Linked DNA regions of Homo sapiens. The protein of the gene in region 3 purifies or fractionates together with the protein of the main gene of each other region. This does not show direct contact. Each region holds a gene or a part of one and is shown on either strand. Other genes may lie near its edges.

Evidence for each region.
Region 1: the proteins of GLI2 (region 3) and CPNE2 purify together in Homo sapiens (co-immunoprecipitation; one large-scale study listed by IntAct). This does not show direct contact.
Region 2: the proteins of GLI2 (region 3) and ZNF521 purify together in Homo sapiens (affinity purification with western blotting, with the first as the bait; one study listed by BioGRID). This does not show direct contact.

The regions. Positions count from the first base shown.
Region 1 is NC_000016.10:57,099,082-57,102,727, forward strand, and holds part of CPNE2 (copine-2), read left to right. Parts: intron 1-3,646.
Region 2 is NC_000018.10:25,065,602-25,069,247, reverse strand, and holds part of ZNF521 (zinc finger protein 521), read left to right. Parts: intron 1-3,646. UniProt on the Homo sapiens protein: Transcription factor that can both act as an activator or a repressor depending on the context. Involved in BMP signaling and in the regulation of the immature compartment of the hematopoietic system.
Region 3 is NC_000002.12:120,734,436-120,738,737, forward strand, and holds the start of GLI2 (zinc finger protein GLI2), read left to right. Parts: upstream 1-1,432; 5' UTR 1,433-1,850; intron 1,851-2,125; exon of another isoform or gene 2,126-3,226; intron 3,227-4,302. UniProt on the Homo sapiens protein: Functions as a transcription regulator in the hedgehog (Hh) pathway. Functions as a transcriptional activator. May also function as transcriptional repressor. Requires STK36 for full transcriptional activator activity.

The DNA.
Region 1 (3,646 bases), on a different chromosome or scaffold from region 3:
CCAAAGCCCCCGGTGTCCCCTTCTTGTCAGTAACACCCGTCCACGTGTCCTACTGCTATCCTGACTTCCAGCAGCATAGATTTGTTTTGTCCATGTTTAAGGGCACCTAAGTGAAATCATATAGGATGACATACTCCTTTCTCTCTGGCCCCCTTCACACAGCACGTGTGAGACCCATCCGTGTTATTGCTACCTGTGTTCTTCCTTCAAGTTGGCTGTATGTGGTCTGCTGTGTGTTCATTCACCAGTTATGTCTCCCTTCTTCCAATCATGGGGGTTTGGGTGGGGAGTTCCAGTTGGGATTATTTGGATTAGCACTGCCATGAACATTCCTGTGTGTATCTTTGGGTGAACATACGTGAGTGTTTTCGTTGGGCACTAATGTTTCTCCTAAGTGGTTGCACCAATTTCCACTCCCTCTGGCAACCTGTGTGTGTTCCAGTTGCTCTGCATTATTGCCAACACATGGTATGGTCAGCTTTTTAAAATTTTGGCCGTCCTGGGGGTGGGGGTGGGTGCATAGTGCTTTTTTTTTTAAGACAGTTTCATTCTGTTGCCCTGGCTGGAGTGCAGTGGCGCGATCTCAGCTTGCTGCAACTTCCACACCCCACCCCCATTCAAGTGATTCTCCTGCCTTAGCCTGCTGAGTAGCTGGGATTACAGGCATCCGCCACCATGTCCGGCTAATTTTTGATTTTTTTTTTTTTTTTTTTTTGAGACGGAGTTTTGCTGTTGCCAGGCTGGAGTGCAGTGGTGCGATCTCGGCTCACTGCAACCTCTGCCTCCTGGATTCAAGCGATTCTCCTGCCTCAGCCTCCCGAATAGCTGGGACTACAGGCGCGTGCACCACGCCCAGCTAATTTTTGTATTTTTAGTAGAGATGGGGTTTCACCATGCTAGCCGGGATGGTCTTGATCTCTTGACCTTGTGATCCACCTGCCTCGGCCTCTCAAAGTGCTGGGATTGCAGGTGTGAGCCACCATGCCCTGCCTAGTTTTTGTGTTTTTAGTGGGGATGGGGTTTCACAATGTTGGCTGGGTCTCGAACTCCTGACCTCAAGTGATCCGCCCACCTCAGCCTCCAAAAGTGCTGGGATTACAGGCATGAGTCACCATGCCCGGCTGCATTTGGTTTTACTGAGCTGAGTTTGAAGAAAGAAATCACTAAGTGAAGAAGGGGGAAGGGCATTCCAGGCAGATGGAACAGCATATGCAGAATTAGGGAGGCACGAAAAATACTTGCTGAAACTGTGTGTGGCAAACAGCAGAGCTAGAGCCAAAAGTGTGAGGGAGGGGACTTTGAGAGCTTCATCAGGGAACCTGGATGTTGTCCTGAGAACAGCCGAAAGCCATGGAGAGGTTTTTCTCATTTTGAGCCAGTATCTGCAGTGCGTCAAGCATTTTGTAATTTCCATGTGTTGGATGAGAAAACTAAACTGAGACACAGAAGGACCAATGACTTGTCCAGAGTCACATTAGTGGAGGCCCAATAGGTAGAGTGGTATTGGGCTGGGAGCCAGAGGACCAGAACCATGTGGGTAAGTGATTCAACTTCCTAGCCTTGGTTTACTCACCTGGAGAATGGGAGTGCTGATGATAACACCTCATTTGGGGATGTTGTGAAGCTATAGAATTTCAAGGACCTGGGACAGGCATTATTATTCTCATTTTATTATGGTTATCTCTCCATCAGCATGGCCACACCCACCTTCACCCTTCTCTTGCAGCTGACAGGGTGGGGGTGGGCTCTCTGAGCTCCCACACTTAAGAAGGGCTAGCCCAGAGCTCCTGCCCTAACACCCTGTTTTCCTGCCCCATGACAGATCTCCTAGGAACTAAAGATTGCTATGATGGTTAATTTTATGTGTCAGCTTGGCAAGGCTTTGGTGACCAGTTGTTTGGTCAAATAAAGGTAGTTTTTAGATGCAGTTAACATTAAATCAGTAGACTTTTGAGTCCAGCAGCTTACCCTCCATTATGTGTGGCCCTCATTCAATTGATCAGAGGCCTTCAGGGCAAAGACTAAGGTTTCTCAAAGACGGAATTCAGCCCCAAGACTGCAGCATAGAAACCCTGCCTGGGTTTCCAGCCTTCTGGCTTGCCCTACAGATTTTGGACTTTCCAGCCCCGACAATCGCATGAGCTAATTCTTGAAAATACATTTCTCTCTCTGCATAGATAGATATCCTATTGGTTCTGTTTCTCCAGAAAACCTGGACTAATATGGTTGCCATTTATCTTCCTGGATCTTCTCATCTGGGAAATGGGATGAAGGAGGCAATTTAGACCTGGATGCATTCAAGATACGTTCCAACCCCCCAAAAGTTCAGTAAACTTAGCAGCCATCAGGGCCCGTAGGGAATGGGTGTCTTGTTAGCTGAGGGTTCTGGTTAACAGAGCATTCTCATCCAGACTAGAGGTTGCAAACTCAGAAGTCTACAGAGACCTGGCTGGAAGCTCGGTGTGTGAAGCCAGCAGGGCTTGTATGGAGACCAAGTGTGACACCTGCCTCATTATGCCAAATCCAACTACACTAGAGCCATCCCTGGGGTGTGGTCAGCCATGGGGTGGCCACATTGCAACTTCTGATCTGTAGCCTCGTGTCTCAAAGTGTGGTTCCAGGGGGGCAGCCCCAGCATCAGCTGTAGCTTGTTAGAAACACAGAATTTTAGGCCCCTCCCCAGACCTGCTGGATGACAATCTGTATTTGAACAAGATGCCCCACGTACTCAGCTAACCTGTGATTTGTGTATACTTAGCCCACATCAGAACCACCAGCAGAGCATGTTAAAACACAGGCCTACGGGCACCACTCTAGGCCTTCTGCTAGAGCAGGTCTGGGTGGGCCCAGCGTGCTGCATTTCTTTTTCTTTTTTTTTTTTTTGAGACAGGGTCTCACTCTGTTGCCCAGCCTGGAGTGCAGTGGCATGATCACGGCTCACTGCAGCCTTGACTTCCCGGGCTTAGGTGATTCCCCCCATCTCAGCCTCCCAAGTACCTGGGACTACAGGCACATGCCACCATGCCCAGCTAATTTTTTTTTGCCATTTTTTGTAGAGACAGGGTTTCACTATGTTGCCCAGCTGGGCTTAAATTCCTGAGCTCGAGATCCACCTGCCTCGGCCTCCCAAAGTGCGGGGATAACAGGAGTGAGCCACCGCACCCGCTTGGTGCTGCATTTCTAGCAGGCTCCGGGGAGATGCGTAGGTGACCCATCTGGAAACCACACGTGGTGACAGCTCTGAGCCACCACAGGAGCCTCTGCTATCAGAGATGAGACCCCACTGCCAGGATATGCTGGGTGCAGAAGGACTTGGAGGCCCTGAGGGTCCCAGAAGCCACAGCACCCAGGAGTGGGCCCCACCTCGAAGACCTTGAGGGCTGTGTATCCAAGCCCATAATTCAATCCCTAGTCCCCCGTCACTACCATGGTCTCTCTGGGCTTCCCTATGCTGTGTCCACCAGCCTGGAGGGAGAGCCTAGAGCCGTGTTTCTCAATCAGTTTTTTGTTTTTATTTATTTCTCTTTTTTTTTTTTTTGAGAGAGGGTCTCCCTGTGTTGCCCAGGCTGGAGTGCAGTGGCACGATCTCAGCTCATTGCAACCTCCACTTCCCAGGTTCAAGCAATTCTTTTGCCTCAGCCTCTGA
Region 2 (3,646 bases), on a different chromosome or scaffold from region 3:
AAAACTATTTTACTAGCATAAGAAGTTGGGAATGAAAAGGAGAGAGGATGGAAATGTAAAAATCTTGATTAGAAAGTATAATTTAATAGAATATGTATTGAACCAAATATATTGATTAATGTAGAAGATATAGTACTTATATTGATTCGAACCAGAGATTTAGTACTAAAAGCTCTAAGCCAAAAAGCTGTTGCAGATTGCTACAAAAGTCAGTTTAATGCTGTCCTTGAGAATGCCTTCACAAAGAAATTCTTCTAATGTTTGAGGACTAGGTAGAATGCGGTATATGTCAGTCTGATCCCGGAGGGTTTTATTTTGTACTCTAATAGCTGTTAGGAGCCTACATTATATCCAAGGAGTAATTTTCCTTAGGGGTGCCCAGCTCGCTTTGTGTCAATATTCTAGCATTTTAAGTCACGTACAGTATATGCTTCTGGGAACGGGGAAGGAGCCAGCCAGACTCATAATGGTCTGCATTCATTAATAAAGGCAGAAGCTTCTGTCCCTCCATTGCCCACTACAGGGATGCCTCTTTGGCCTTCAGGGACCCGTACAGACACATTTAAAGAAAGCTTTATTTTGAGTGGGCAGGAGATGAAATGTAGGACTTGCAGGCATTTCCTAAGTCAGCTATATGCCCGAGCACAGGGGTGACCTTAATGGGTCAAAGAAGAATGCAGGTCAAAAGACTTATTATCCAGCCTGTGGGAAACCAATTGCTTTTGTTTAAAAAAAAAAATTAAAAATGAAAAAAAGCAATAGTGCTTAAAGGTGGACGGTAATGTAGAATTCTGTTTGCAGCCTGTAACTGCACGACTGTATGTGAACTAGAATATACTTCCAGAAAAATAAGAGCATACCGATTATCCTCAGTGTTTATGGATAAAGGTCCAACCCAAGTGATAAAAGGAAGGGTAATATAATTAGTTAATCAGTGATGATTGATTACGGATGTTTGTGTTCTTCAACTAAAGAAAAAACAACATGCTGCCATGGTGCTGTCACCATCTGTTGAAAGAAACAGCCACATTTAATCTTTATATTTCTTTATTTCTTCCCACCTTGCATTGTTTCTGAGCCACAATTGCCTACTATTTCATCTAGTTAGAAAACATCTCATTTAAATTAAATACAACTGCAGTTTAAATTCGGGTTTCTAATGGCATAGTGAATTAGTGGTGGAAAGCTTGTTATTTTTTTTCATTCCTTTTTAAAATAGCGTGCTGGCTCTTTTACTTAGTTTTAAAAGCTTGTCAGAATTTGTTTGAAACAAAAGGCTATAAATAAACAAGTCATGGTAAAAATGATTAACATCTTTGAATCAACAGATTTCACAAAACTTCCATTCAAATGCCATTTTTGTTTTTATGACCACTGATACGTAACATTTTGCCGATGCCAACAGAGTGTTACAAAGCACAGACGAGACACGGTCTCTGCCAAAGAATTAGAAAAGTGAAGGCAATCTCTGGGCATAAGTTTTGGGGTTGGGAATTTAATTTTTCAACTCTAGGAAGATAGGTTCCCCCTGGCTTTCCTCCAAAGCTGAATTTCATCATTGATGTAGGTGCAAAAATTCAAATTTACATCAAGATTGCAGGAAAATGGAATGTCTTTAGCCAAGGTGAACAGTTTCAAAGGATCATGGATTTTTATTTTTACTTAAAAATATTTTTCTTGGATTGCATTTTAAATAGGATTAAACTGTTTGACCAGCAAATGTGGTCAGCTCTCAGAAAAAAAGGAGGCTGAATTAATCATTTGTTAGAGTGCCAAGCCCAAAATGAGAATTCCAGTCTTGTAAAATGAAAGGCATCTCATATTTAAAAAGAAATACATAGTGCTAGAAGGGAATTTTTAAGGCCCTCGTCTGTTTTTTAGCTTTCTAAGTTTAATTTCACATTTATAGAGAAAAAAAATACATACAGCACACTCCTTCCAGATGGGGCCCTTTACAGTAAAGAAAGTGTTTTTGAAACCTCGCTATTAAGGTATCATACCTAGATGGATCTTCTTTTCAGCTTTAAGGTATGTTGTGGATTTGATTTTTTTTTAACACAAACCCCCCTCGTGTAAAACAACTGTTCATAACTGGGATTAATGGTTTGCAATTTTCAGTTACTTAGACATGGGGTCTCCAGGAGATGGCTTTTTGCAGAGTAGAATATGGCTCTCTGTGGGATTACAGAAGTTTTCTTCTCTTCCTACTTCCTTTTCTGTCTTCACCCCCCACCTCCACCAATGTTGCACTGATGTTCTTCTCAATTATGTAAAACACTTTCCCTTCATTGGAACAGATATTTTTTCTCATAACCTGTCATTGCATTAAAGTACTTTAGGGACTGTGAATTGCTGTGTAAAATTGGTGAGATTACCCACTGCTTTGTTCTAGTGTAGTGGTTTCCTCTGGACCTAAAGAGCTGAAAACTCTTGCACAGAGAGAAGGCTGCTTGTGGATGGCCTGGCAGCATTTTTCCGCTTTCTGCTCATATGCATTTGTGTCCTTGCTGTCTCAGGACTGGTTCTGTGGTGTGGCAAGTAGCCAGGGGGAGAGCAGACTGGGCCTCAGAGCCTACCCTCTCTTTGCTTGGCGCTTCTGCTGTCTACTTTTTTATCCTTCCCACTTGCCTCTTGTCTCCCTTTCTAAAGAAATAATGTCTATGAGCATCAGAAAACACAAAAAACACTGAGTGCTCCCATGAAGCTCTATTCAGAGAATCTTTAGTCGAGACCAGAGACTAGGACTTCGCATCTGTTCTCACCAACACCTAAAAGCCAATCGAATAAACCATGGCTCAGATATTCCATTCCTTCCCCCAGAGAATGAAATGAGGCCATTTGTATTTCCAGTGGACTTGAAATACTGCGTGGGGGAGGAGAACAGACACATCCCCCGGATCCTCAAAGGTGGCAAAGGCAAGCCCTTGAGGATGGAGCAGAATCCCATGGCGGGGTTGTTTCCAACACAAGTATATCCATTGCCCAAGAAGCTCTAGGAACGTGCTGCCTTCCACCATGAGCATCACTGCCAATGGTGGACAGCCAGGCCTGGGGACACCCTGCCATAGCACTCTGTTGGGCTGGAGCAAAAAAGGGAAACCAAACAAAATGAGAATAAGAGACCTCCGTGGTCTGCAGGCATCTCCACACCAAGAGGACTTCCTGCCCTTACATTTCTCATGCCAGATTTCTTAGGTTGATATTACTTACATTGGGTTGCTTTATTTTTGAATTTCACAAGCCATACCCTTGCCCTTCTCACAAGTGATTTATATTCCTCTCTCTTATATGCAAAACATAACTCCTTTATGAAACAACTTCAGTCTGTTGTAGTAAGTGATGTATGTGTATTTGTTCATGTCCTTGCACCTCTGAAGAGACTTGTATGGCTTTGATTGAGGATGAAAGCATACAACACACAACCATTGCCAACTGTTATGGGCAGTTTGTTTTGGGTTCTTGTAGCATCTTGATATGAGCACATATAAAAACACCAGGAAAATTGCACTGTGTACTCTTTTACTAACCCCTAGAATCCAATCACATGTGGAGTGTCCATCATAAGCACTTAAACATTTGAAAATAATGTAATTAAACTGTTTTTTTTTTTTATTTGGTAAGAAGAAAAAAACACCCATCTTTCTGT
Region 3 (4,302 bases):
CAACCTCCATCTCCCAAGGGGTTTGAGAGATTCTCCAGCCTCAGTCTCCCAAGTAGCCGGGATTACAGGCGCGCGCTACTATCCCTGGCTAATTTTTTGTATTTTTAGTAGAGACGGGGTTTCACCATGTTGGCCAGGCTGGTCTTGAACTCCTGACCTCAGGTGATCCCCGTGCCTCGGCCTCCCAAAGTGCTAGGATTACAAGCGTGAGCCACCGCGCCCGGCCCAACAGGGCAAATTTAACTGAACTTACAGTACAACCACCCGAAGCTCTGGGAGGATGGCAGAGTGCTCTGACCTTAGACTAGTTACTTAACTTTTTAAAGCATCAGACTTCCCACCTGTAAAAACACGAGAAGAGAACCTTCCTTACAGAGCTGTGAAAGTCCAATAATACAAAGAAAATATAACATCACCTGGCACTTGGTAGAGTGTTCTACAAACGTTAGGAAGAATAAAACCAGAAATTCCCCCCAAGACCCTCTTCGGGTGAGGCCCAGGGGCCCTGGAGAGGGTGGCAGGCCCGGGGGTGTGGGGAGGACACTTTAGCCAGCTGCCCCCAATTCTCCTCCAAGCCTGGCGGCCCAGTTCCGGGCTGTGGTGTGGCTTGAGGGCCCAGGGCTCCTCACTGAGCTTGCTTAAGCAAGTTCTTTCACACACAGCCCCATATACACTTTGGCTAGAAAATTCAATGAGGAGTTTTTTCTTCCTTCTTTCTCTGTTGTTGTTGGGTTCTGATTACTTCCATCTGGCTTCAGCGGCTCGAGTGGAGTCTCTAAAACACACAACACAACAAAACAAAAACCCACCCTGCAAGCCACATGCACCAAACCTAGAAGGCTGCTTCGTTTCTCGCCAGCGTGTGCTCAGATGGCGACGAGGGCTAGCGGCGGCGGGGGACGCCTCAGGACCCCCGGCACCTGCGCTCGCTGCCCGCGGGAAGAGGGTCCGCGTGGACCCAGCCCCCGCGTCCCTTCTCTGGCGTCCCCGGCTTCCGCGCGGGCGTCCAGAGAAGCGGGCGCCCTGGGAACAGCGACCCAGGCATCTCCCCGAGGAGGGAAGTGGGAGGTGGGGAGGGCGGGGGGATTTCAGAGATTGAAAACAGAGCAGCCCTTGCCCCTCAGCTCCGGAGCTCATCTGACTTGAGTTAGCGACACCCCCAACCCCCCCCCCCACACCTAGTCGTCTAAAAAAAGTGTCGGAGATTGGCGCGTCCTTTGGTTCCTTTCTCGAACTTTCCTTGTAGGTGCGTTTTCTTTCCTTGGTGCTGGGTGGGGAGAGTCCCTGTGCTCCCCCTTTCCCCTCCCCCCGCCCCGGCGGCGTTCGGGTCCCCCTGCGTCCCCCGGCAGGGAGCGGGCGGGCTGGCTGGCGGGTTCTTGGGGCCCGGGTGTGCCCGCACCGTGCGCGCGGGGGCGCTGCGCAGTCCGGCGGCGCTGATGGATTGCAGAAGTGCCGGCGCTTGCCAGCCGAGGCAGCACGGCTCCGCGGACTTTTTTTCAAACTCCCATCAATGAGACTTCGAGGAGGAGCGGGCGGCGGCGGCGGCTGCGACTGCGAACGCGGAGGAAGGCCAGGAGCCGCAGGAGGAGCCGGAGGAAAGAGCTTGGGCCGCGCGGCGCGCCGCAGCCTCGGGGAGCCGCCTGCTCGCCGGCGGTAGGGGCTGCGCGGCGCCCGCCCGCCTCTCGGTCCCCTCTCTTGCCTGGCCCGCCCCGCCCCGGCTGGCTGGAGCCCCGGCACAAGGCAGCCAGCCGAGGGTCGCCGCGCCAGCCAAGGTGGGATGGGGGCCCACAGCCACCGCCCGGCGCCCGAGAGGCCACCTGCGTGCTAGAGGCAAACTTTTGTCTCTCTCGGTAAAGTTGCATTGGCCTTCTTTTGCTTGCTTTTCGTGACGAAGCGCCTCCCACCTCGGCCAAGCGCGGGCCGACTGGGATGCTGCGCCGTCTCGGGGGGTCCCTCGGCCGGGTACCGGCGCCTAGGCCTTGGGATCGGGGCCCTGGGCTTCGGGGGACTAGAGGCTAGTAGGCGCGACCCCGCCTGGGGCTCTGGACGAGCAGGGCGGGGACGTAAGGAGAGTCCTGGGGCTTGGAGCTCGTGGCCAGAGGTCGATGTTGCACCCTCTCCCTACCTGGGGGAGAGCACCACTCTTCTCGGGGTGCACAGCGAGCCGGCCTCCGCGCGCCGGCGGGGGTCTGTTTTTTCAGGGGGTGGAGGGTGGGATCGGAGGCTGGGATGCTCCGAAGCTGCCGTAGGTGGGCATGGGAGCGTGTCTGCGGGCGTACTGAGCGCGGAGGGGCTGCAGCCAGCCACTTGAGAACTTCGAACTCCACTTCTCCGCGCTGCGCGTCCCGGAGCCCTGCCTTTCTTTCTTCCTTCCTCAATCCTTCCTCCCCCTCGCCCGGCCCGGCCGCCCCCTCCCCCTCTGCTGGGCTCTCCTCCTCGGCCCCCCCTCTTTGCCTCTCTTCTCCTCCTCTCCTGCCCTCGGCCCTGAGATCCGCTTGACTTCCCAAAGGGATCCGCACGTAATCCTTTGCCGGGTCCTCCGGTTCCCCCTTCCACCTCACTTTCATCCCTGCCCCCCTACTCATCGTCTCTCCCCACCCCCGACAATCTCTCAACAAGTATATTTGCTGAGGAATTTGAAAAATCCACTACTGCAACTTGATCTGTATGTGATGGATGGGGAGAGGCGCGGAGAGAGTTGGGCGCCAATCCTATTAAGGGTTTAGAGAGGGGAGTCTTTTCCCCGGACGGGGCGGGGGCGGGGAGCTGGGAGGGAGCGTGTGCTTGCGTGTGTGAGTGTGAGCGCGCCCGCCGCGCTGGAGAGCTGGGAGTCCACCCAGCTCGGCGCCTTTTCAGCCCGGCGGTAACTGCTGTCATTTCCTAGGAAACCCGACTTTTACCGCGCGGGGAGCTGGGGATGGAGCCCGTGCGCCTCACCCTGGGTGATCGGTCGCTGAGGCTCTCGGGGACCTCGAGCCCCCCCGAGGGTGCCTCTTTCCACTACCTTCTCTTTTGTGTAATTGTTCTGTGGCTCCTAGAGTTGATCCCAGCTGGAAAAGTAGACCTGTCCCTACTGTCTGGTCCCGCGCCCTGGGAGTCTTGTAGGCGTCCCTCTGTCCCCCAGCCCGGGCATCCCGCTCGGTGCGCGACCTCTGGCACGGGCTTTGCAGCTCGGTGGCCGCAGCGGTGTCCCGGGCCCCCTCTCCGCCGCTCTTGCCGGGCGTGTGAAGGTTTAATCCCGACAGCTTCAGATAAAGGGAGCAGTTGTAAAACGCTCATAGGCTGTTTGCAGACGAGGCTCTGGGGGATGTAGGAGAATTTGAAAGTAAACGTTTCCCTCGCAAGCAGCATAAAATAGTGTTTAAACAAATATTGTATTGGCATGCTCAGGGGGCTCGGTGCCAAAAAGTAAAGTAAATAAACTGTGAAATCCAAAATATACAGCGGGGAAAGCGGAGGAATAGGCGGGTTTGTCACAGGCCTCCCTGATGAGACCAGTTTGTTCCAGCCACCTCACCTGCCAGCTTTCTCTCCGCCCATTTCCTTACCTTGCTGGGAGTTCCCTTGGCTGGGTTTCCCTGTGTCTGGGGACAGGCCCTCCCTGGGGCCTGGGAACGGCTTTGCAGTTGCTTGTTTAGGGGGAAGCTCACGGTGTGGCTACCTGGGCCTGACTCCACAGGGACGGGGGGCACCTTGGCTATGCCTGGCTGCTTTGAGTTTGGAGGCTCTTTATTTAGGCTTTTCCCAGCTTCTGGTCTGTCCTGGGGCAGTCATTCTAGAATGTGGAATCCAGATCCATCAGGGGCCTTCTCTTCTTTTTGACTATGCTTCTTGTGCCTCTTTCTTCATCGTTCTTGCTTTTGTTTTCCTAGACTTGCTGCTTCTCTCTTGAGGGTTACAGGAAATTGTGGAGATGTTTTTCCCTGGGATTCGAATTCCACTCAAGCCCAGCCATATGGAAAGTTGTCGCTTGTCTGATGAGTTTTAAAGTTAATTATATTTGGTAAGATTTAGGGTGGTTTTATTTTCTCCTCTGCTTCGAGAAATATGCCAGTTTCACGAAATTGTTTCGTGATTTTAGGGGATTTAAGCTAATACAGGGAAGATCCTGCATTTGAAAGAGCCCAGCTGCCCAGGAGGTATCCCTCAGGTGAACCAGCCTTCAGTTGGGCTAGCATCTGAGTGAGAGACTGTGGTCAGAACGGTCTATTTGCAAAGCCTCTTGGAGAGAATTAGAATTATAGGTAGAAAGAATTAGAATGATAGTAGAAAGAGCCTCCCAAGCCACCGAGGAACAAGGTA